Homo sapiens: one gene and its partners. The protein of the gene in region 1 interacts with the protein of each later gene in a biochemical or structural test. Each region holds a gene or a part of one and is shown in the gene's direction. Other genes may lie near its edges.

Region 1 (3,500 bases):
GCAATGGTGTGACCTCTGCTCACTGCAACCTCCACCTCCAGGTTCAAGTGATTCTCCTGCCTCAGCCTCCCGAGTAGCTGGGATTACAGGCGTGCGCCGCCACGCCCAGCTAAATTTTTGAATTTTTAGTAGAGATGAGGTTTCACCATATAGGCCAGGCTGGTCTCGATCTCCTGACCTCGTGATCCGCTCTCCTCGGCCTCCCAAAGTGCTGAAATTACAGGCGTGAGCCCCTGCACCTGGACTGTTGTGTTCTTAAAATGGAAATGGAGCACGTTTCAGTGTAGATGGGAAAAAATCTTGTCAAGCAGGGAGAAAAGGAACATGCAAGTGAAAGAAGGGCTACTTGAATGTTCAGGATAATACTATTAAGGAAAAACTTGCTAGACTACCCACAGACACCTTTGAAATCACTTCTTCATCATGGTGAAGACCACAGGAAGCTTTGTGCTGAAGTCTTAAAGAGCCAGCATTTTGAAAGAACATGATTCTGTCAGTGTCAACGTCAGGCAATAGTGCCTGATAATGGAGACATCTGTGTCATGATTGCCATGCTCAGTTCATCTTCACTTACTTTTCCAGGAGCTGATGAGGATGTAGAGAGTCCAGAGCTGACAACATCTCGACCACTTCCAAAGATACTGTTGACTAGTGCTGCTCCAAAAGTGGAAACCACGACGCTGAATATACAGAACAAGATACCTGCTCAGACAAAGGTGCGTTCTATTTTCCATTGCATTGCATTATCAGGTTATTACAAATGCTTCACTTTACTGACTGTACACAACAGTCCCTTTTGTATTATTTTCTTCTTTTTGGAGCTACCCATCATGAACTATGTACACAACAGTTCTTTTAAAAGACCCCACTTAAAATTGTGTAAGGACAAATGGTCTTCAGGTGGTGTTATAAATGGCTCTTCCTTACTCTTTTTGATCATTTTGGCATTTACCCACTTATAATCTCTGTCATCCAGGCTCAAATTATATACAACTATTTTTCACATGGCCCTCCTTCTTAAGGAACGTCTGAAGCCCAGTTAAGAAGTAAAGCCCTGTTTCTTTGGTTTCCTGGTTTGTAGGTTACGTAATTAGAAGACTCCAGGTCACGTCTTGAGGTGGTCCTAGTCTCACTAAGTCATTTCTCAGTCTTCCTAGGCCGACCATCAGTACTATGTAATCCTTGACCTCTCTCGATGATGATGAACCTGGGTACATCTGTATATATTCATTTTGAGAGCTGACTTATTAAGAATAAGGTCTTTGGCCTTAGACCTGAGTAAAGTGACCAGCTAATGAAAACTTGGAGCTTGTGATTTTGACCTCGTTAATATTGCAGTTAGCTGACCATCCACTAATAGGTAACCCACTGAAGTTAGAACATGCATATTAAAGTCTGGCAAAGACCTAAGTTTCAAATCCTGGATCCAGTCAGGTTTCTTAGCTTCTGAACCCATTTCCTATGGGCCTTGAAGAAGATGAAATGTGAGTGCATGTAGCATGGCACCTGAGACCTAGTCACCATTCTGTAAGCATTAATTGAATTGGTGGAGCAGAAGAGACCAAGCCAATTCACCAAATGAGCATGTGTAATAACTGTAGTGGTAGACTTTGCAATCAGTGCAGGGGTAACATATGGCTTAAGAAAACTCAGAAGCACAAGCATCCCCTTTTAGAGCTCACCCATCTGTTGATTAGAAATGAGATGCTGCCAAGCTTTAGCAGCAGACAGGGTATGGATATGGAAGGCTGTTTGATGAAGGTGGCGACAGGCCTTCCTTGGAGTAAGAATCATCCCGTCTTCAGGCCAGAATGCATGTGGGCTTTTCTTACCCTTGCCCCAGAGTACCTTTGTTCTTCCTCCTCCTCCATCCTCCCAGTGCCTGTGACTGGAATGGTGAATGGCACCGCTGGATGGGTTTCTGCAGATGTGGAACAGCCAGGAAGCCAGCCCTGTCCAAATTGAAGTGCTTTCTGTAGGACCAAGAAGGGTCAATTACTATTAGTGGTAGACTTCACAAGCCAGGCGGTAGGAAGGCAGGGAGAGCCCTATGAGAACTGAGACCGACTCACCTGGCATGTGCTGGATCCATGCATAAAAGCTACTGTATCAATGTTTCAGTTGAGTGAATGAAACAAAAAAAGAAAGGGAGAAATGAAAAGTGCAGGTGCAATTGGTGGTACGATGACTGCCTCAGAGTGTGTGTGGCACAATTAGCTACTATTTACTAAAGATGCATTTGGCTCTTACCACATTTTTATTTGACCACTTCTCTTGACTAAATCTGCTGAAGTCAGAGACAATTAGGACTCACTAGCTTGAGGGAAGCAACTCTCCTGGGTGAGTTTTGGCTTGTAGTGATAGAGAGTTCTATCCTAAGCAAGACTTAATTTGACATAGAGTTCTGTCTGGTTTGTTAACAGCAATGGATTGACCACTAATTTAAGTTTTTAAAAATTGGTTTTAAGGAAGTAATTGCATCAGATCGAGATAAAAAATGTAGAACTTTGGCAGGTGAATTTAAAAATTAAGGAGCCCAAAAGATTTTAATACATTTATATTCTTACTATCATTTGTGTTCAATATAGTAATAGTAGAAATTCATCCATTTATAGGAGATTTGTTGAGTGCTATTCATTATGTGTCGAACACTGTTTGCAGCACTGATAATGATAATATTGATCATGAATAACATGAATAATAATGATTAAATTTTTCATTTTGCTGTTTATGTGGTACAGCCGAATTGAACATTGCCTCTAGGATACCATTAGTGTAGATTTTGCTTTTCAATTGGTCTCACAGTGGCATTAATGTCACTGTTACGGATATCCTATCTAGTTTGTTGTAAATTTAAGTGACTAAAATGCACAAAAGGGAATCTCGTTATTTGTTTGAGAAGAGCATCACTCATAAGCTTTTACTTCTGTTGCATTTCCATGGCATCCAAACAACCAGACATGGATGTGGCAGATCTTTACTTGGCCTCATTTAATCATCCCTGCTGTCTTTTTGCGGATTCATTTTGCACATACATTCATACAAGAGTGAAGGTATTTCAGATTAGTTCCATATTACCAAATGGTATCTTCTTAGTCAAGCCTTTGCTTCCATACGATAAAACATTTTGACTTAAAAAATGAATTTTCCACCCAGAGCCGCTTGAGGCTTGTGCACCTCCAGCTGCAGGGCGGCTCCAGTTCTGTGGAGTCCTTCAGTTCCCACACTCTCAGATCCCTGGATTGCACGCTTTGTTCAGCCTGCCGGATCAGAGGCTGAGTCAGAGGAAACTGAAAAGATCAACTCTCTTAAATGACTTTAGGGACTCAATCACATGGTGAAACCATATGATTTGTAATAATAATGGGACAAAGATGATATGGATATGGATGAATTAAACTCAGTCTCTCATATTACAGTAACTACTTAGGTCCATTTCATTTCTCACCAGAACTTGTTTACCTCTCTCCCTAGTCACAAACCTGAGTATTCACCTATTT
Region 2 (4,204 bases), on another chromosome or scaffold:
CAAGGGAAACTTGCCTGGCACCTGGACCCTTCCCCCAGAAACAGATCTCAAGTTGCCCAAAGAGGAAGGCACCATAGGAAGTGGGCGGCAGGGCAGGGTCTTGAGTTTGCAGATACAAAAGCACAAGTAGCCCTGCCCCAGATTTAGAACCTGGATTATTCTAAAGGTGCCACTAGCGTTGGGCTGGCAGGAGCCAGTGTGGGGCGGCCCAGGAATTGTGGCTAAATTCCATGCTGGGGTCACTGTTCTGGAGGGAACCCACAAGAAACCTCGGGTCCCTAACTACCGGGCAGCCCTCTCCCACTAGCTGCAGGGCACATGGAAGAAATATGAGGCTCGTGTGTTCCCACGCGGTCAGGAACTCCATGGGAGCCAGGCCTTGTCTGTCTGGTTCTCTGTTGCCAGACGCACTGTGCAGTTGTACAGGTTGTTGACATCCACCATTCAGTGCCCTGTCACCATCACCCCACCCTTCTTGGTGTCTGACCCTCAGTTGGTGCCAGCACACACTGGTGGGATGGAGGGCAGGGGAAATTGGGTGCAGCCTGCCACCCCTTCTCACAGACAGGTAGAGGAGGAGCCTCAGGTGTCCATTAAGATCAGCCTGGTCAGTCCTGAGCCAATGTGGAGGAATCCCAGGAGTGTGCAAGGCTAAGGCCCAGCTGGGTCTGGGACGGGGCAGAGCCTGCCAGGTGTGGCTGGAGCCTGTGACCAACTGGCCCTGCCTATCAAGCCCAGAGGCGGGCAGATCCTCCACCCAGCTCACTTGGTCTTCACAAAAAGCTGGGTGGCCACTCCACGTGGCAGGCTGCCGGGTTCATCTTTCCTAAGTCCCATTTTACCGAGGGAAAACTGATACCTAGGAGAGGTAGTTGGAACATTGGTGGGAGGGCCCTGGAGGGTCTCCAAGCTCAAGGGTTTCTAAGCTGAGACCTACAGAGACGCCCTGGCATTGTTCATGCAGTCAAAGAGTCTGTGCTTCATCTAGCTTATGTCCTGGGGTTCTGTGCAAATTCTCTTGGAATCTGCCGTTTAGAAAAAAAAAAAGTTTGGAAAGCACTGTTCCCTGTCTCCAGATGAAAAAACTGATGCCTAGTGAGGGAAGAGTCGTTTGCCAAAGTCCCAGGGCAAGTTAGAAGCAGGCTCTCTCTCTGCCTGAGAGCCCTGGGGGAAGCCCCAGGCATGCCACCTTCAAAGACCCCCTGTCCAGACCCAGGCTGCAGGGGTGGGGCATGTTGGACCCTGTCCTGGAGCCAGCCTTGACAATAGCCATGTCCCCTTTAAGCAGAGAGCCGCCCGCTGCAGTGGGTGGACTCGGTGCCCAGCCAGTGGGAGCTGTGAGCTTCCCTCCCACAGCCCCTCCCTGGGGAGGGGAGGGAGGGCCAAGCAGCGTGGCTCCCGAGGGAGTTGGTGGGCAGCAGGGGAGACAATAGCGAACATGCTGTGTGGGCTCAGCCGGGAGACCCCTGGAGAGGCGGGTACGTAATGGGGGGTCTGTGGGCAGAGTGATGGGGCTGAACACATAGATCCCTCTGGAGCTGCTGCCCAGAGAGAGGGGACTGGATGGCTGAGACCTGGGACTGCCACTCCCTGGAGACCCAGGGCTTGGGGAGGGTGGGGCAGGACACTTGCTGGGGCTGTCTGTCTGACCCTGGCCACTGTCCTGTAGCAGGATGGCTGAGCCTCCCCCAGGGCTGTCCAGCACAGGCAGGCAGAACAGGCGGGTCTGGAGGTTCCGAGGGCAGTGCTCAGCCTTGTAGGGGGAAGGCTGGTCCTATCTGGGTGTGAGCGAAGCCTTTTGCCCAATCTCAGGATCTGCACAGCTGCCTGGTGGGAGTGAGTGTCCGACCCAGAGGGGTGAGAGCCCAAGGCCCATGGGCAAGGTGGTGGTGAGGAGTTCCTGTGCTGGCACAGCTGGGCAGGAGACTGGTTCTCGGCAGGAGGAGAAACTCTGGTTTGGGGGTCTGACTGGTGAGCCCCTGGGGCTCTGGGAATGTGTGGGATGGGGGATCACAGCTGCCACATTCCTGGGTGTGCTGAGGCTGGGACCCAGGGGAGGGGCAGACACGATTGTTCCATCTGTCTCTCCAGCCTCAGCCTGGGCTCACCCTATTCCTCCAAAGAGGGAGCTTGGGGCCTGGACCAGAACATACTGCATTCACTGCCCTGGGGTTGCCTCACTGGTTTCTTCCCACGCTCTTGACATATCTTTGCACCACAGCTCCAAGGGCAAGGACTGTGGTCCCAGTGGACAGAGGAGGAAACCAAGGCTCAGGGAGGGCAGTGGCCGAGCTGGGATTGACACCCCGATGACTTTTACTGCAGAGCCCCCAGCCCTGCTTCTGAGGGCCCAGTGGACTTTGATTCCCACCTCCCTTCCCATGGCAAGGAGCAGAGCCAGGTCACCTCTGGACCCAGCCTTAGCGACCCAGGAAAAATAACACTCATAATCATAATAGCTGGCTGTTGTCGAGAGCTTCCTCTGGGCCAGGCTCTTTTCTAAGCTTTCTGTGCATTTTCTCATTTAATCCTCATAACTACACTGCCACTTGGGTACTGTTATTCTCTCCATTTTGCAGTTGGGGAAACTGAGGCAGAGAGCTGCTAAGTGACTTGTTCAGGGTTATATAGCCAGAAGTGACAAAGCTGGGATTTGACCCGATGGGCCCACCCATCCTTGGCAACTGCACTGTAAATGGAGGCTCTGCCTTCTTGGCCTGGACACATCTGTTCTTTCAACCCAAGGCCCAGGTGAGTGGGGTCACCTTGGTCTGCTGTGGTCAGGGCCACAAAGGCAGCAGTGCCCTGGAGACCTTACCTGGGGCACTGCCAGGGAGGTGTCTCCCCCTCCTCATGGGCCTGTGACCTCCACCTCGGCCCAGGGTCAGCATCAACTGCCTGGGCCTTTGCCCAGTCTCCTCCCTGGCCTGGCCTCCACCCCTTTGCTGCCATGGGAGGAAGCTTGCCAAAACACAAATCTGCTCAGCTCCTAAGCCTTGCATTCAAGGCCCTTCCTGACCTCTCTGACATTTTCTCTCTCTGATGACTTACTTGACCTCTACCCTCACCACTGTAGCCTCCACCCTAGGTCTCCTCCCCAGGTCACAGAACCTCATGATCACACTTGCTTCAGTTTGCATCAGCACCAAGGCTCTTCTTCCAAAAAGTGTAAAGATGGAGCTTCAGGCACAGTGGGATCCAGATGCTCAATTAACATCATTAGGACTCTGGGTCTCTTCGTAGCTTGCTCTGCTTCACTTTAGTGAGCTTCATTTCCAGGCAGACTCTCTCCTCTCCTTGAGAGTTCCTGGCACCTTCAAACTTAAGGTCAACCAGCTCAGTCATCCCTAAGGAAAGAGAGCCTATTTCCAGTAGTTCCAGCAAATGCCCCAGAAACGGCTCTCATTGGTCCAACTTGTATCACATGCCCACCCCTGATGGATCGCTGAGCCTCTGATTGGCCAGGCCTGGTCATGTGACCTCCCCTGTTGCTGGTAAGGACAGCCATATACCTCCACATTTGGCACAGAAGACTGCAGCCCTGAGAAGTCAGCCCACTGGCAGTGTGCGTCAGTGAGTGCCCCGATTGGAGCTGGGCTCTGTGGACCAGGCAGCCCTATGCCCTTTCTCTGCTCCTGATGGACTCTGGGTGGGTCCCTTCTCAGGCCCCACACCCTGGGCATGTCGTCTCACTCCAGGGAGTCTTGCTTTCCTGTCACTAACCCCAGAGTTCTGGCAGGAAGGGACTGTGACCTATCTCCATTGGCCCAGGCTGGGGCACACAGTAGGCCTGAACACAGATTTTGGCAGGAAGTCCCTCTCCATGTTCACTCTCCTGCCTTGAGGACGGGAGGCCTGCTCTGACTCCGCAGCCACAAAGACATCTTTGTTCCAGGCCTGCTAGGTCTGAGCAGGCACTTGCTGCCATGCTGGGGGCAGGGAAGTCTCAGTGGGTGTGGGTGTACATGTGTGAAGGTCCCCCTGCTGTGCCCTGGGCTACCCACTCCTCCGAGGGGCCCTCACCAGGCCTACCCCTTGGCTCTGAGACTCCTCAGGCAGGCCTGGCCTCCTACTCCACAGCAGGGGCTGTGGCCATGGGGGATCCTTCGCCTGAGTTTGCGTCCTGGCTCTGTCTCTTCCTAGTCTCTGACCTTGAGAAACTCATTCCACCTCTTTGATTCTCATTCTCCTAATCTGTAAATGG
Region 3 (3,500 bases), on another chromosome or scaffold:
CCCCACAGAGTTATAGAGTGCCAGCCTGCTTATTCCACATGCTGTGGATGTGTTACCCCCTGTATTAGTTTGGTAGCACTGCCGTACTAATGCCACAGGCTAGGTGGCTTAAACGGCAGACTTTTATTTTCTCAGAGTTCTAGAGGCTGGAAGTCTAAGATCAAGGTGTCAGCAAGGATTGGTTTCTCCTGAGACCTCTCCCCTTGGCTTATGGATGGCCGTCTTCTCCTTGTGTCTTCACATGGTCTTCTTTCTGTGTGCATACATCCCTGGTGTCTCTTTGTAAGCCCAAATTTTCTCCTCTTATAAGGACACCAGTCAGTTGGATTAGGGCCCACCCGAATGGTTTCACTTAGCCACCTCCTTAAGGGTCCTTTCTCCAGATTGCGTCACATTCCCAGGAACTATGGGTTATCTTGTCAACGTGTGGATTTTGAGAGGGACATAATTCAGCCCATTACACCTCCTGTCTACTAAGTTTAAAGCATTTTGCTTAAACAACAATAACAACAAACCCTGGGTATGCAGCAATTAGGAGAACAAGAACTTGCAGAATAAACCAGTTAAGTTGAAAGTGTGTGTGTATGTGTGTATGTATATGTGTGTGTGTGTGTGTATGTATATGTGTGTGTGTGTGTATATATATGTCAAATTCGGAAAGATACATATTATGGTATCATAGCTCATCTCATTTTGTTTCTGTTTTTACTTCCTCAGTGTTGGAGTTTCCAGATCAAAAGATGTGCCACCATTTGGCCCACCGATTCCCAAAGGTGTAACTTTTCCAAAGTCAGCCGTGTTCCGGGACTTCCTTTTAGCCAAAGTAATCAATGCAGAAAATGCAGCCCATAAATCAGAAAAGTTTCGAGCAATGGCCACTCGAACGAGGCAGGAGTACTTGAAAGATCTGGCGGAGAACTTTGTCACAACCGCCACCGTGGATACCTCTGTGAAGTTCAGCTTCATTACGCTGGGTGCGAAGAAAAAGGAGAAGGTAAAGCCAAGGAAGGATGCCCACTTGTTTAGCATTGGGGCCATCATGTGGCACGTGATAGCCCGGGACTTCGGCCAGTCTGCTGACATTGAATGTCTTCTCGGGATCTCCAATGAGTTCATCATGTTGATTGAAAAGGATTCCAAGAATGTTGTATTCAACTGTTCCTGCAGGGATGTGATTGGGTGGACATCTGGATTAGTGAGTATCAAAGTGTTTTACGAAAGAGGAGAATGTGTCCTCCTGTCCTCGGTAGACAACTGTGCTGAAGACATCAGGGAAATTGTTCAGCGATTAGTAGTAAGTACATGTTTTCTATTTTCCCGCCATCCTTATGTTTTCAATTCCAGATTCAAAATAACTTTCACTGGGGAACTGCTACCATGATTATACCAATTAGGGAATGCATTACTATTTGTTACAGATACAGAGCTTAATTTTAAATGCTGGGTCCTTTTGGGGAGTTGTTGAATACATGAATGGTGGAGAAGCAACCATCATAAATCAATTGGAAAAGAAAAGTTAAGCCAACCTGCAAAAGAGAACATTAAGATGTATTTTAGTAGCATTTGAAGGAAAAACAGAAGTGTCTGGGTAGAATGTCTGTTTATGGAGGCTGACATAACATACCTTCCCAGTGGGTAATTAACAACAGAATTGCTGTTGACTGTATGAATGACGAGTCCTATCTGCAGTTTCACCCCTGCATGTTTATACAGCAGCTATTTTTGTTTAATGTGCCAGATTAAATATATTATTAATCTTAGAGCCACAGTTTCTTAAGGGAGTTTTTCAGAATTACACATTAATTTAGAAAGGCTTTTGAAAAGTTAGACTTAAGAAAGATTTTCATGTATGTGATTTTTAGTGCAAAACCCTTATATTTTATCCATGGTGTTCAGTAGTCATATTTCTGCTCCCAATTTTAACAAAGTAAGAATCAGATTTTAGTTTGAGCATATAAAATAAAGTAGTAAGAATAAATCAAACTACTTCTAGTTTTTATTTTTGGTAATATAAGAAAAAAACATGCTTTGACAATAGAATTTCTTGTGTGTAAATCTTCCCCCAAGAGGGATGTAATTTTTTTTTTAATTAGAAAAGGTTTAGTTCACTATGGATCATGAGAAAAGGAGAAATTATATCCATTTCTTGCCCCCTTTCCTCCCACCAAAAATATTTCCTCCCTTTTGTTATTAGAGACCATGTATAAGAGAAGGTAAAATCAGGGCAGTGTCTGCTAGCCTTGGAAAAGTAATTTCATTATTTGTGGACTCTGTTTACAGTAAAGGGCCTCAGTGTGTTCAACAGTATTATCAGGTATACGTGAGCAAGCCTAGATAAGAGTTTGGGGTGATTAAGTAAATGATTAGTTTATATACCTAGAGAATTGACTTGAATTATACTGGTGAGTCTCTGGATGCATTCTGCTTTTGCTAATTGCAAATACTTCTTTTTAGCATATCCACCAAATCATTATAATCTGTGCTTCTGAAAATACAACACAAATACCACTTCACCAACCACAAAAATGTACTTTCCCTGGATATTTACACATGGGCTTTTATACATTTGCTATTCGATGGACTCCATCCTATTTTCCTAGAAAAGTGTATTGTCAGTGTGACCAAGATGCACAATATTACAAATATATTTTAGGAATTATATTCTGTGTCTAGGATGACTTGCAACATGAGCTGTTGGAAACAAGCCAGACCAAAGACTGTTGAAGGGATTAGATCGTAAGGGTTGATGCAGAGTGGTAGTAACAGAAATGGGAAGAAAGAGAAGAATGCAGTCTTAGTGGAGATGTTGGGAATGCCTGCCCGTTTGGCAGATGGTTAACTCAGTATCCATTCTCAGGTGGTGGAAAGTGGAACTAAAGGGTCTGTCTTGCAGGTAACAGTACAGGAGCAGAATGAGAGTTTGTTCCTAGAGGGCCAGGCAGGGCTCACTTCACGGATGTGCAACCCATGCAGTTGCACAGGGACCCGCTCTCAGAAGAGTTCGTGCTTGGTTGAATGCTCTGCCATTGCCATCTTGAAATACTTACTAATTTTTTCATAAGGAGCCTCGCATTTTGATTTTTCTTGTGGCCCCACAAATTACATAGCCAGTCCTGGCTTGGAGACTACAATTTTCGTGTGATAATTGGGTCCATGGAAGAAGTCCAAATACATGGAGAACACCTTACTTCAGACTTTGGGGATGTTAGGAAGCAATAAACAGAGGGGATAAAGAAATAGCAAAAAGACAAAGTAGGGGAGGTGGCAGGTGATTGGAGGAAATGAGCAGAAGAGCCAGAGCTGGAGGACTCTGGAAAGGCTCAGCCAATAACTCTTCAGCCTGATACATGGATGATAAACTTCACCTGATAATCGCATTGATATTTGAAAGAAGGCTGGGTACATCTTATGTGTCGTCTTTTGATAGGATTGCTTAGAACAAAGTTGAAAAAGAAGTGACCAAAATTTATTTGTGTTGTGCCTATTACAGAACTACTTCT
Region 4 (3,500 bases), on another chromosome or scaffold:
GACCGGCAGTCTAGAGTTGATACGGCAGCTCCACAAATATTAGAGATCCAGATTCCTTCCATCACTGTGCTCTGCCATTTTTAGCTTATGGTTTCCATCCTCAGGATTTCTTCATGTCTGCATTTCAGGCAGGAAGAAGGATTAATCTAAGGAAAGGGCAAAAAGATGCTTCTCCATGATGTTAGCCTTCTTTAAAGAACTTATTATTAAATCTTTCTCAGTAATTTTTGCCAGCATTTCATTGACCATCCCCAGCTGCATGTCAGTCTCCTATTGGCCATATGGCCACTTCCAGTAAAACTGGAGTCTGTTAATAAGGAAGAAGTAAGAAATGGAATTGGGTACCAACCAGTAGCACATTCTTTTCTTTTGCTCTTAATATATTGTAAGCATTTTTCCTGCCACTGTGTACCACATATGTTTTGAGTGTGTAAGAGATAGCAGATATTTTGTTCCTATATGGGACACAGCAATAAATAAGACAGCTATTGCTTGGCAGAGGCAGGACATGAAATGATGTTGATGATATAATGAGAGTAATACATTTATAAGTTTTATTTGTTTTCAGTTAATTTCATTTGGTTAATTAGTTCCTAGTACTGATGTGTTAAAATTCATGAAAATAATTTTAAGTTAAACTCTTAAGTTTTCTAACTCTGTGAATCTGTGTTAGAAGGGTTTTATTTAACTGAAATAAAAGCTCATAACTGCTTCTTCGAGCTATTTGACATTAACATTCAGAAACAATCTAAATTTTCTCTAGAAAAGAATTTACCTGAAGTTTTAACATTAGAATTTGAAAGAGTATGATGAAAAGAACACTGTACCAGTTATGTTGACTAATTTTGATAAAACAAAAAGTTTTAATCTAATGCTATTACAGTTACTATTGTTTATAGATTGCAAATATATTTGTTCTAATGAACTTTACCCAAATGATATCCAACATGTGGGATTTTTCCTTATAATGACTATACCACTAAATAAAATCATTTGTTTGATCTTTTTCTAATTATAAAACTTTTTTCTTATATCTGAAGTCTGGCCCCTCTGTGGAGGAGCTGGTAAGTATATTGTTTCTGTTTTGCTTTAATATGTCACGCTGAAGTGTTCTTAGTGTTTTATTTGCATATTATATGTTGTCACTCATTGTATTTGAAAATAGCATTAATAATGGCAATTTTTTAATGTTCCAGTACCTGAAAAGTTCAGTGGATGGCCCATTGCTCTTTTCTCACTGCATGTTGTTAAACATTTTTCTTTTGTTAGTGATTTATAGCCATTATTTGCAGAGCCTGTCAATTTTTGACAATTTTTGAGCCTTGTAGCTTGCTCATACCTCTACTTCAAAGAGCAATTGGTTTTCCCACTTCAGGGTATTGAAGATATATCAAGCAGGCTTAGTTTTTAACCCCCTTAAGTTTCTGTTTGAAATTATTTCCAGAAAAGAATGTGCATGTTGGTTTCTTCTTCATCTACTGCGTTACAACTTTTCAAGAGTCTTGAGAATAATCGTATGGCCTTTGAAACAATTGAATTTTGAAATGCTTTAGCAGAAGTTATTTTAGAAAATAACAATACATTTTTAATATTTTTCTCATTACCCCAACCTAATCAAGTTCCAATTTGTCTTATGGCTTTACCTCTTTTGAAGATATAATCTTTGGTATCTAAATGTAAAATGAACATCTTGGGTGTTACCTAGTAACAAACAGGTTAACTAAGAACCAAGAAAATTTTTTTCTGGAAATCTAGAAATGGTTAACTTCAGTTTCCTTCATCTTATTCTTGCTTACCTCTGTTAATTTCGGGCCCAAGAGTTTGTCAGATTCATTAGGGATTTGAATCATTAAAACCCCAGTGAGTGGTAGCTTAGTATGTCTCCCACATTTCATTAATGTAGTATAAATAGCTCATTAAAGTAATTGAAAGTAGGTAATCATCAACATAAAGTTTATTTAGCCCATAAGCCAAAGAAATCTTGGTCTAGGAGTGCTCTTTCAAAAGTTGCATCAACTTTAACATGTCATAAGAAAGATTTTTGTTTGTATCTCCAAACTGGTTTCTTTTGAAACAGATACTTGCCCTTTTAGGACATAGGTTCTGAAATAAGAGTTTAATAATTCCAAAATTATGTTAAAAGGAGGATTCTAGATTGAGTTTTTCGAATCCTTTAAAACCAGTATCTAGAAATTACGTTCTAATCTTTTTTTTCCCAGAAATTGAGTCTGCTAATCTTTCATCTGTTTGTCATATATATAACAAATATTTTTAATCAAAGAAGTGATAAATATATCTAGCATTTAGTAGTTGTCATTAATTTTAGCTTGTATGTGTGTGTGTATATGTAAATATATTTTTTTTAGGATTATCGTATTTATTGACTAGTATTCAAATATATCTATTTTGATGTTGTTCAAAACAGTAGACCAAAGGAGGCACATTAAATTAGTACCAAAATATATTCCATGAATTGCTGAAAATTTGCTTAAATTTGTTTCTTAGCTTCTCAATATCCAGAATAAAAAGGGAAATAATTATGTAAAATAATCAGTGCCCATACAATAGAAACAATACTATTCATCATTTCCTCAAGAGAAACAATTTCTCTGGTGCTAAGGTAGGTTTTTATTTACGTCCTCACAAAAGGGACAAAGGGGGTATAGGGAATAATGTCTTCCACATATTGTGAACAAATGTAACCATGTTTTCATAGGATTTGTGGATTCTGTAAAAGCAGTTCTGCTCAGGATAAATGCAAGTTTTCAGTGTTTACGTGGTTTTTTTGATCTATAAATAACAGTTAAAATGTCTATTGGGGTCCTTATTTAACTCTCAAAAGGGTTTTAGAAGTAAATAGCAGATTCAACTATCCATTGAAGCCACTTTTACTAATATGTGATAACATGAGCTTAGAGTAGACTACTTTTCTTACTATACTCCATATCAGGGTAACCCATGGCGTGCAATTATTTTATCTAGAAGTAGTTCCAAGATGTTATGGTACTAGTTCAAAAGAACTACATCCAGATCTTTGTGTTCCATTTTATAGAGATGATACATTGTTGAACTGTAGGCTTTTGTGCATTTTCAGGAACATGGTCTAGTGCTAAAGAGTTTTTATTTTCATTAAATTATATGCTTTTAAAAATTACATAGGAAAGAGAGCTTGAGGCAAACAAAAAAGAAAAAATGAAAGAAGCACAACTTGAAGCTGAAGTGAAATTGTTGAGAAAAGAGAATGAAGCCCTTCGTAGACATATAGCTGTTCTCCAGGCTGAAGTATATGGGGCGAGACTAGCTGCCAAGTACTTGGATAAGGAACTGGCAGGAAGGTGTGTAAAAAATGGGTATTATTGTACTCTTAAGTGACAAATTGGATATTTAATGAGGTTGACTCTTACTTCTTTCTTTTTTTATTTTTTATTTTTTTGAGATGGAGTCTTGCTCTGTTGCCCAGGCTGGAGTGCAGTGGCATGATCTCTGCTCACTGCAACCTC
Region 5 (3,500 bases), on another chromosome or scaffold:
CGCTGGTTCCCAATCACACGTCATATACTTGGCTTGCAACAGTTTTGTTGACTGAGTGACTGAATGCACAGAAGAATTAAGGCACAAATGAAGTAGATTGCTGAAAAGCAGATTTTCTCTTTTTTTCCTTTTCTTTTTGCTATTATTATTTTTACTTCGTGAGGCAACAGTAGAAAACCAGGTTTTTTGTTTGTTTGTTTGGTTGGTTGGTTTTTTTTTTTTTTGAGATGGAGTCTCGCTCTGTCGCCCAGGCTGGAGCGCAGTGGCGCAATCTCGGCTCACTGCAACCTCCGCCTCCCGGGTTCACGCCATTCTCCTGCCTCAGCCTCCCGAGTAGCTGGGACTACAGGCGCCCGCCACCACACCCAGCTATATTTTTGTATTTTTAGTAGAGATGGGGTTTCACCGTGTTATCCAGGATGGTCTCGATCTCCTGACCTCGTGATCCGCCCGCCTCGGCCTCCCAAAGTGCTGGGATTACAGGTGTGAGCCACCGCGCCCGGCCAAAAGCAGGTTTTTAATTCATTAAGGTGATCCGAAGGTCAGGGGTGGTGGGAATAAGGGGCTTAAGGCTATGCCCATCTCCAAAGCCTTGGATTTGAACCCAGGTTTGGAGGATGGTACTAGGGAGCCATCGAGTGTTCTTGAGCAGGGCATGGATATGAGAGCAGACGGTGGGTGGTTGGAGGAAGACAATGTGTCCTGGTGCAGTTATCCAGCTTCCTCTCTTAGAGGGGTTGACAGTGGGATTTCTCTGCGTTGCCCATTGACATTTGGGGCCAGATCCTTCTCTGGGATGGGGCCATTCTGGGCAATGCAGGGTGCTTAGCAGTATCCCTGGCCTCCACTCACTCATGCCAGGAGAACCTTCCAGGTTTATTTTTTTATTGTTTCATTTTATTTTATTTTTTTGAGTTGGAGTCTCGCTCTTGTCATCCAGGCTGGAGTGCAATGGCGCAATCTCGGCTCACTACAGCCTCTGCCTCCTGGGTTCAAGCAACTCTCCTGCCTCGGCCTCCCGAGTAGCTGGGATTACAGGCACCCACCACCACACTCGGCTAATTTTTGTATTTTTAGTAGAGATGGGGTTTCCCCATGTTGGCCAGGCTGGTCTCGAACTCCTGACCTCACGTGATCCACCCACCTCAGCCTCCCGAAGTGCTGGGATTACAGGCGTGAGCCACCACGCCCGACTTGTTTTATTTTTGAGATGGAGTCTTGCTCCATTGCCCAGGCTGGAGTGCAGTGGCGCCATCTCAGATCACTGCGACCTCTGCCTCCCGGGTTCAAGTGATTCTCCTGCCTCAGCCTCCCGAGTAGCAGGGATTACAGGTGCCTGTCACTACGCCCAGCTAATTTCTGTATTTTGAGTAGAGACGGGGTTTCACCCTGTTGGCCAGGCTGCTCTCGAACTATTGACCTCAAGTGATCCGCCCATCTCAGCCTCTCAAAGTGCTGGAATTACAGGTGTGAGTCACCGCGCTCGGCCTGGTATTGAACACCAAAATGTCTCAAGACGTTGCCAAGGGTCCCCCTCTGGTGAGAGGCACTGGCTTGGAGTTCGAGGTGCAGGGGCAAACAGAGCTGCAGCCAAATCCCTCAGGCCAGCTCACCATCTGGCCTCAGTTTTCTCAGCTGCAAAGTGGGCGCACGAGTGTTGTGTGTAACTGGGGCTGCAGCCAAGCATATGCCAGTAAACATGGCCCGGGAGCCCCATTCACTGCTAGGACTTTAACCCACTTATTTCTTTATTTATTTTTGAGACAGCGTCTAGCTCTGTCACCCAGGCTGGAGTGCAAGGGCAAGATCATGGATCACTGCAGCCTCGACCTCCTGGGCTCAAATGATCCTCCCACTTCAGCGCCTAGAGGTGCCTGCTACCACACCCAGCTCATACATATATATATATATATATATATTTTTTTTTTTTTTTTGAAACAGAGTCTCAGTCTGTCGCCCAGGTTGGAGACAGTGGCACGATCTCGGCTCACTGCACCCTCTGCCTCCCAGGTTCAAGTGATTCTCCTGCCTCAGCCTCCCGAGTACCTGGGATTACAGGCGGGTGCCAACACGCCCAGGTGACTTTTTTTTTTTTTTTTGAGACGGAGTTTCGCTCTTGTTGCCCAGGCTGGAGTGCAATGGCCCGATTTCGGCTCACTGCAACCTCCGCCTCCCGGGCTCAAGCAATTCTCTTGCCTCAGCCTCTCTAGTAGCTGGGATTACAGGCATGTGCCACCACACCCAGCTAATTTTGTATTTTTAGTAGAGACGAGGTTTCTCCATGTTGGTCAGGCTGGTCTCGAACTCCCAACCTCAGGTGATCCGCCCGCCTCGACCTCCCAAAGTGCTGGGATTACAGGCACGAGCCACCACGCCTGGCCCATGACTGTTATATTTTTAGTACAGACAGAGTTTCACCATGTTGGCCAGGCTGGTCTCAAACTCCTGACCTCAAGTGATTCGGCCGCCTTGGCCATCCAAAGTGGGATTACAGGCGTGAGCCACTGTGCCCAGCCATAGCTTATATATATATATATATATATATAATTTTATTTTTTTTTGAAACATAGTGTTGTGCTGTCTGCCCTGTCACCCAGGCTGGAGTGCAGTGGCGTGATCTCAGCTCACTGCAACCGCCGCCTCCCAGGGTCAAGTGATTCTCTTGCCTCAGCCTCCTGAGTAGCTGGGATTACAGGCGCCTGCCACCATCCTTGGCTAATTTTTCGTATTTTTGTAGAGATGGGTTTTGCCCTGTGGGCCAGGCTGGCCTCCAACTCCTGACTCAAGTGATCCTCCTGCCTTGGCCTCCCAGAGTGCTGGGATGACAGGCATGAGCCACTGCACCCTGCCTAAGATATTTTTAAAAATTTTTGTGGATGTGGAGATGGGGGTCTCACTGTGTTGCCCAGGAATGAGAGTACAGTGGTGTGACCATGACTTACTGCAGCCTCCACCGCCTGGGCTCAAGCAATCCTCCCAGCTCAGCTTCCCAAGTAGCTGGGAGTACAGGCAAGTGCCACCAAGACTGGCTAATTAAAAAAAAAAAAAAAGGCCGGGCACGATGGCTCACGCCTATAATCCCAGCACTTAGGGAGGCCGAGGGGGGCGGATCACAAGGTCAGGAGTTTGAGACCATCCTGGCTAACACGGTGAAACCCCATCTCTACTAAAAGTACAAAAATCAGCCGGGCATGTGCCTGTAGTCCCAGCTACTCGGGAGGCTGAGGCAGGAGAATGGCGTGAACCCGGGAAGCAGAGCTTGCAGTGAGCTGAGATTGCGCCTGGGCAACAGGGCGAGACTCCAACTCAAAAAAAAAAAAAAAAAAAAAGTGTGTGTGTGTGTGTGTGTGTGTGTGTGTGTGTGTGTGTGTGTCTGTGTGTGTGTAGAGATGGAAGTCTCACTCTGTTACTCAGGCTGGTCTCTCCTGGCCTCAAGAGATCCTCCCGCCTCGGCCTTCCAAAGTGCTGGGACTACAAGCGTGAGCCACTGTTCCTGGCCA
Region 6 (3,500 bases), on another chromosome or scaffold:
GGGAATAGAGCTGGAGGCATGGGCAGGAAAAGCAGTATGTGATCTTCTTGGGACTGTAGCTGGCACGTGGTAGGGGCAGGTGGGAGACCCAAGTCAGAGCCATTGGTATATCCCCCTGCTGCCACATGGCACATGACTTCACAGTTACCTTTTTGCTTGTCTTCATCCCGCACAAGAGAGTAAGGGCAAGGACTTTTTCTTATTTACCAATTCCCAGCACCTTAACACAATGTCTGGCACACAGTAGGCTCTCAAACACTTGAATGAATGAATGAATGAATGAATGAATGAATGGTGTCTCCTTAACAGAGCCTGGATCTTACAACCAGAAAAATGATCCATGAGGGACCCCTGACCTGGAGGATCAGCAAGGATAAGACCTTGGGTATGTGCCAGGGGACTGGGACTGAGCAGGAACCTGTAGTGGGTGGGCCTCCCTGGGCTCTTCTGTCTTTCCCAAGCATGGAAACATGACTGGAGGTGATAGCTCAGGACATGGGAAGGGAATAATCAGAGAGAGAAATGGGGTCACCAGACTCCCAGGACTTCCTAGAGCCTCCAAGAGCCTGTGGCCCTGCATTGTGCTCATGAGGGATGAGTAGGCACCAGGGAACACCTTCCCATGACCATACCCCTCCAGACCTCCACGTGCTGCTGCTGGAGGACCTCCTAGTGCTGCTACAGAAACAGGATGAGAAGCTATTGCTGAAGTGCCACAGCAAGACTGCTGTGGGCTCCTCAGACAGCAAGCAGACCTTCAGCCCCGTGCTCAAGCTCAATGCTGTGCTCATCCGCTCTGTGGCCACAGGTACCTGGGGAGATGGTCCAGGCTGGCCTGGGGCTCAGGGACCATGTCCAGCAAGTGCTGGGTGAGGCAGGGCCAGTCTGGAGCCTTTACAGGACCTACCTGTCCACCTGTGTTCCTTTCCTCCTGTCCTGACCCAGCCTAAGTGGTAGGACTGGCCCAAAGTGGGGTAGGATGAGGGTTAGGATGGGGACCAAGAGGAAGACAGACAACCTGGCACAGGGGTGGTCAGCAGTCCCCAAGCACAGTGCTGGATGGGATGTGCACACCCAGGATGGGTGAGAGTGTCTGAGCAGGATTGGGAAGAATGGGATTAGGCAGAATGAGTAGGACAAGCCTTTCTGCTACAGAGTGACTTGGGCAGAGCTTGGTTACAGAAGATGTTAGTACCCACGGTACAGAGCTGGGTCCAGTGGACAGGGACATTTCAATGAGAAGTGTAGTGTGTGTGAGAAAGGGCTCTGGAGCAAAATTCTCTGGATTCACTTTCTTCGTCTGTAAGATAGGAGTGATACCTACCCTACCTCTTGTGGGCATCAAAAGGGATGACGGGTATGAAAAAGTTTTATAAACCCTTGACCAGGCACTGTGGCTCATGCCTGTAATCCCAGCCCTTTGGGAGGCCGAGGCACTCAGATCACTTGAGGTCAGGAGTTCAAGACCAGCCTGGCCAACATGGTGAAACCCTATCTCTACTAAAAATACAAAAATTAGCCAGGCATGTTGGCAGGCACCTGTAATTCCAGTTACTCGGGAGGCTGAGGCAGGAGAATCACTTGAACCCGGGAGGCGCAGGTTGCAGTGAGCCAAGATGGCACCACTACATTCTAGCCTGGGTGACAGAGCAAGAATCCGTTTCAAAAAAAAAAAAAGTTTTATAACTCCTAAGCACCATACACCTATCAGCCATCACTGTTATTAGAGCAGGAGAGGAATGGGGGTGGCTGTGGAAGATGACATTAGGGGTCCTGGAATTTCCTCTGTCCCTTATGTAAGTGGGTTCCAAGTGGTCCTGAAGATCCACATCTGTCTCGTGCTGCACTCTCCATCTGCGTTGAGGGTCAGGGCTTTGAGTCCCACTCTGTCACCCTGGCCCAGGCTGCAGTCACACCTGCCATCCCTAGTACAGACCCTTCTACCTTCCTTTCCTCACACAGATAAACGGGCCTTCTTCATCATCTGCACCTCCAAGCTGGGCCCACCCCAGATCTATGAGCTGGTTGCATTGACGTCATCAGACAAGAACACGTGAGAATTGATTGAGGGGTTACCCGTAACTGTGGTCCCTTTCGGACCAGGGTGGTGTTTATGAGGACAGTGGGTAGCAAGGCCAGGTTTGGGCCCCAAAGCAGTCCCTGGACAAGGGGTTGGGAAGGAAGTGGGAGGTAGGACAGAAGTAGAGAAGCTGGGAGGGGTCATCACCCCCGACCTGGTCACCAGGCCCGCTTCTGGGAGAATGAGCTTCTGGCAGTCTTCCAGCCGCTGCTGCTGCTTCTTTCCTTCCTGCCCTACTCCCTTCACCATTAGGCAGATTAGATTCATGCATCCTTCTCAGGCATTTGCCTCCCACCCAGCCCATGTTCTTTGACAGCAGCTGCCAGAGGTGGCATGGTACAGTGGAAGGAGACAGGTTGAGTCAGACTGTTTCCCAACTCCAGGGTTTTCATCTGTAAAATGTGGCTAATGCTACCTGTTAGAGGATTACTTTAGAGGGAAAACATAGAATGCTTTGCACAGAGTGTAACAGAGGGTTGGTGTCCAGGATTTGGTAGCTGCAAGTAATATAACCGCAAGGGAGCAGCCAGGGAGGACTGTACAGGGAGGTGGGCACCTGCCAGGCAGAGGGTTCTTAGGGCCTGGAAGCCCTGTTCCAGTGGGCTCAGTACGGGGTGGTGCGTGCTGCTATCTTGCTCTCACTACAGTCCTCTCTGTTCCTGCCGAGCAACAGATGGATGGAGCTCTTAGAAGAGGCCGTGCGGAATGCCACCAGGCACCCCGGAGCTGCCCCAATGCCCGTCCATCCTCCACCCCCAGGTCCCCGGGAGCCAGCCCAGCAGGGCCCCACACCCAGCAGGTGCAGTGCTTAGCCCTCCAGACCCTGCACTCTCTCCACTCCAAACCTCCTGTTTCCTGCTGCTTTTAAGCCCTTCGCCCCCGTGGGTAGACAGCCACAACAGGGAAATGCTAGCAGGGAGCAGACAGCTCCAAGTGCTGGCAGATGGAGGAACATGCCCCCTGTCCCTGCTTCTTGTCCCTGTCTGCTCCCCCACAGCCTGCCACCTGGCTATAATAGAGCTGAGCCTGAAGAAGGGTGAGGGGGATGTAGAGCAAGGGACCAGAGAAGCTCAGCTAGCAGCCCCCCTCCTCTCTGGGTTGCCAAGCAGACCAGCCAGGTGAAGAGGCCCACACCGTCCTTCTCGGATCCTACTCCATTGCCCATTCTAATGCATGAGTCCAGGGTGGAATCTCATGGGATCTCATCCTGTGTTGGTTTCCTTCCTCAGGGTAGAACTGGATGACTCAGACGTGTTCCATGGTGAACCTGAACCTGAGGAGCTGCCTGGAGGTAAGGGCCCTGAACTGTCCTGTGGGAGCCAGCCCAGGCCTTTTTCTGTAGGCACAGGTTGGGTGTGAGTATGGGGGCGATGGGAGAGTCCATCAGGGCCCGGGGTGTGAGGTTTTGATAAAGAGTAGA
Region 7 (3,500 bases), on another chromosome or scaffold:
TCCTGACCTCAGGTGATGCGCGTGCCTCAGCCTCCCAAAGTGCTGGAATGACAAGCAAGAGCCACTGCACCCAGCCTGTTTTTTATTTGATAATTAAAAGTTACAAAGAGAATGACTCAAATCTCTAAAGCATTTTGGTTACAAAAATAAGAAATTTGGTGAATCCTTTCTAGTTTGGTGTGTCATTCATCCGAGCCCTGAAATGTATTTGGTGTGCTCCTGTCAGTTATGAAATTAATGCTCTTGCTTATGAGTGTTGTTTTTCAGGGATCACAACTAAGGCCTAGCTCTTAAGTAGAGGAAAGAAAACATCTAGGGAGTACTATCAAACAGGAAGGTGTCCTGGGTATTAGAGATGGTGTTATATGCACAATGCCAGTATCTCTTTGAGTTCTTTTCTTAAAGTCATGACATTTGCCTGTTAGGATATACTTTCCATCAGGTCAGAGACCATGTCGGGTTTGTTTATGTAGAACCCAGCACATTGTGTGGCACATAGTTGGCACGCTCTTTGTATTTGTTGATTGAATGAGTGAATGAATGAATAAAATTGGCTTAGCAAGACTTAGCTGTCATGGATTATTCTTAATGCAACAAAACAAAACAAAACAAAAGCCTTCTAACCTAAAATAATGAAAAGTAGTGGCTACCTTAGGATGTCACTTTGCCTCTCTGTGTATGTAGCTGGCTCCTACAAGTGTAGTGCTCTCAAGGGCCAAGAAAGAATGTGAGGTGTTGGTTTTGATAGTCATAGCCCTGTTTCAGTTGTCTGCATTTACCCTGCTGTTTTAACTTATGAATTGAATCGCACGAGCTAATGTCAGAATACAACTGAAAAGGTTTTTTAAATGGGTGGAGTTGCTATAGAATTGCCCCCCTCCACACACATATATATAAGCTACGCTTTTCAATTTTTTTAACCATAAATACATGAATGACAGAACTATGTCCTAATAAACAAATTAAAATGGATTTAACTTGAACTCACTCTGCACTACCAAATGTGAACTTAACCTTAAAAATTGTGTTAATTTCATCCATGCCTTAGTTCTGGTTTATTCAATTGAGATCTTTAAAAAAAAAGATTGAATTTTGCTAAGTAATATACTAACTGAATTCAAACACTTGTCCAATAAAAATAAATATGCCTGAAAACCACTTGAAAAAAATCATGAGGGATTGAAACTTATTTTGTAGTTATATTCAAGTATCTACCTATCTTGGACATAAAGCTAGGGTGTCTAATTTCCATTGATGGTAATTTTCCTTAGAAACAATATAGCTAGTCCAAGTCTAACTGTTTGTGCAACTTTTGTTTACTTGCCCAGTGTGGAGATAGTTATATTTCAATATAACATCTTTTGTTTTTAAATTAATCAAAGGATTACCTTTAACTAAAAAAAGATAGAATAATGGGAGTCACAACATGGCTATAAGATTTAAACCCACAAGATAGATGGAGAAACATAGCATGAAATCACAGCTGGGTCTATTTAACAATAATGAAGAAAAAATTGGGGAATATAGTTGAGGGACTGCTGAAAGTGATTTTTGAGGAAAATTGGAGAAGAGCAGTAATTGCTGATGGACAAATAACCTGGCTTCCAAAAAGATGACAAAGGTGTTTTGGGAAACTATAGGGCAATCTATTTGTTGCCTCTTGGCCCATATATATATTTTAAAATATATATAAAATGTGTGTGTGTGTGTACATATATATATTTAAAAGAATGAGATATTGGCACTTAGAAAAGAAAGTGGTGATCCCAGAGGCTACGTGGAAAATCACTAAGAGTAGACATTGCAGAAGTTCAGACATATGTCATAGTCTCATTATATATTCATGACCCCACAACTCTCACAGACACCTTGTGGAAAATGTGGAAATACATAAAGTGGATGATTGCATTGTTGGATTTCTAGTAGAAACACTTCTCCAAGGAAGTTTGGTTCATGGTCTTGTTTGGCACTGTTACCAATATTTTGAATGAGCACCATAGAATATATTTTAACAAACTTTACAGGTGACTAAGCTAGGAGGAATAACAAATAATTTGGCCAACCCTACCAATATTCTAAAATTATTCCTAGCTTGAATGGCAGGTTACAATAAAAGAGATAAAATTTAGAGGAAATGAATGTAGCCTTCATTTATTAGATTGAATCAAATTAGAATGCTGATTGCATATTGATTGTACTGGTGTCTGACTGGAATAATCTGGTTTAAGAGTATTTTATTTGGAAAAGATTGAGGACTTTATTTATTAGGTTGGTGCAAAAGTAATTGAGGTTTTTGCCATTGAAGGTAATATCAAAGACTGCAATTACTTTTGCACCAACATAATAATAAATTCATCATGAGCAGTGTGATTAAATTATCAAAATATTATAAAAACTCTCTGGAAAATTAAATATAAAACTAGTTAATATTAATAATGTAGAAAAACACTAATACAGCATACCCTAGCAGGGATTATTTAAAAGATATTAGAATAACTGTATTGGTATATTAATCATGTTAATAATAAGTTTTAAAACATGATGAAAATTAAACTCAATACAATACAAAAATTAACTCAAGATGGATTAAAGACTTAAATGTAAGACCTAAAATCATAAAAAACCCTAGAAGAAAACCTAGGCAATACCATTCAGGGCATAGGCATGGGCAAAGACTTCATGACTAAAACACCAAAAGCAAATGGCAACAAAAGCCAAAATAGACAAATGGGATCTACTTAAACTAAAGAGCTCCTGAACAGCAAAAGAAACTATCATCAGAGAGAACAGGCAACCTACAGAATGGGAGAAAATTTTTGCAATCTACCCATCTGACAAAAGACTAATATCCAGAATCTACAAAGAAACAAATTTACAAGAAAAAAACAAACAACCCCATCAAAAAATGGGAAAAAGATATGAACAGACATTCCTCAAAAGAAGACATTTATGCAGCCAACAGACACGTGAATGTCATCACTGGTCATCAGAGAAATGCAAATCAAATCCACAATGGGATGCCATCTCACACCAGTTAGAATGGCGATCATTAAAAAGTCAGGAAACAGATGCTGGAGAGGATGTGGAGAAATAGGAACACTTTTACACTCTTGGTGGGAGTGTAAATTGGTTCAACCATTGTGGAAGACAGTGTGGCGATCCCTCAAGGATCTAGAACTAGAAATGCTATTTGACCCAGCGATCCCATTACTGAGTATATATCCAAAGGATTATAAATCATGCTACTATAAAGACACATGCACATGTATGTTTATTGCAGCACTATTCACAACAGCAAAGACTTGGAACCAACCCAAATGTCCATCAATGATAGACTGGATTAAGAAAATGTGGCACATATACACCATGGAATACTATGCAGCCATAAAAAAGGATGAGTTGATGTCCTTTGCAGGGACATGGATGAAGCTGGAAACCATCATTCTCAGCAAACTATCACAAGGACAGAAAACCAAACACCGCATATTCTCACTCATAGA

Evidence for each region.
Region 2: the proteins of SDC2 (region 1) and GRIP2 interact in a test that uses a peptide from one of them, tested with the Homo sapiens proteins (one large-scale study listed by IntAct).
Region 3: the proteins of SDC2 (region 1) and SIPA1L2 interact in a test that uses a peptide from one of them, tested with the Homo sapiens proteins (one large-scale study listed by IntAct).
Region 4: the proteins of SDC2 (region 1) and GOPC interact in a test that uses a peptide from one of them, tested with the Homo sapiens proteins (one large-scale study listed by IntAct).
Region 5: the proteins of SDC2 (region 1) and TJP3 interact in a test that uses a peptide from one of them, tested with the Homo sapiens proteins (one large-scale study listed by IntAct).
Region 6: the proteins of SDC2 (region 1) and ARHGEF11 interact in a test that uses a peptide from one of them, tested with the Homo sapiens proteins (one large-scale study listed by IntAct).
Region 7: the proteins of SDC2 (region 1) and LIN7A interact in a test that uses a peptide from one of them, tested with the Homo sapiens proteins (one large-scale study listed by IntAct).

What each region holds. Positions count from the first base shown.
Region 1 is NC_000008.11:96,601,813-96,605,312, forward strand, and holds part of SDC2 (syndecan-2 precursor), read left to right. Parts: intron 1-582; coding exon 583-716; intron 717-3,500. UniProt on the Homo sapiens protein: Cell surface proteoglycan which regulates dendritic arbor morphogenesis.
Region 2 is NC_000003.12:14,537,543-14,541,746, reverse strand, and holds the start of GRIP2 (glutamate receptor-interacting protein 2), read left to right. Parts: upstream 1-1,404; 5' UTR 1,405-1,438; coding exon 1,439-1,478; intron 1,479-4,204.
Region 3 is NC_000001.11:232,462,634-232,466,133, reverse strand, and holds part of SIPA1L2 (signal-induced proliferation-associated 1-like protein 2), read left to right. Parts: intron 1-717; coding exon 718-1,294; intron 1,295-3,500.
Region 4 is NC_000006.12:117,575,012-117,578,511, reverse strand, and holds part of GOPC (Golgi-associated PDZ and coiled-coil motif-containing protein), read left to right. Parts: intron 1-1,040; coding exon 1,041-1,064; intron 1,065-3,159; coding exon 3,160-3,335; intron 3,336-3,500.
Region 5 is NC_000019.10:3,714,884-3,718,383, forward strand, and holds part of TJP3 (tight junction protein ZO-3), read left to right. Parts: intron 1-3,500. UniProt on the Homo sapiens protein: TJP1, TJP2, and TJP3 are closely related scaffolding proteins that link tight junction (TJ) transmembrane proteins such as claudins, junctional adhesion molecules, and occludin to the actin cytoskeleton.
Region 6 is NC_000001.11:156,941,243-156,944,742, reverse strand, and holds part of ARHGEF11 (rho guanine nucleotide exchange factor 11), read left to right. Parts: intron 1-309; coding exon 310-385; intron 386-640; coding exon 641-808; intron 809-1,962; coding exon 1,963-2,053; intron 2,054-2,753; coding exon 2,754-2,879; intron 2,880-3,309; coding exon 3,310-3,371; intron 3,372-3,500. UniProt on the Homo sapiens protein: May play a role in the regulation of RhoA GTPase by guanine nucleotide-binding alpha-12 (GNA12) and alpha-13 (GNA13). Acts as guanine nucleotide exchange factor (GEF) for RhoA GTPase and may act as GTPase-activating protein (GAP) for GNA12 and GNA13.
Region 7 is NC_000012.12:80,927,935-80,931,434, reverse strand, and holds part of LIN7A (protein lin-7 homolog A), read left to right. Parts: intron 1-3,500. UniProt on the Homo sapiens protein: Plays a role in establishing and maintaining the asymmetric distribution of channels and receptors at the plasma membrane of polarized cells.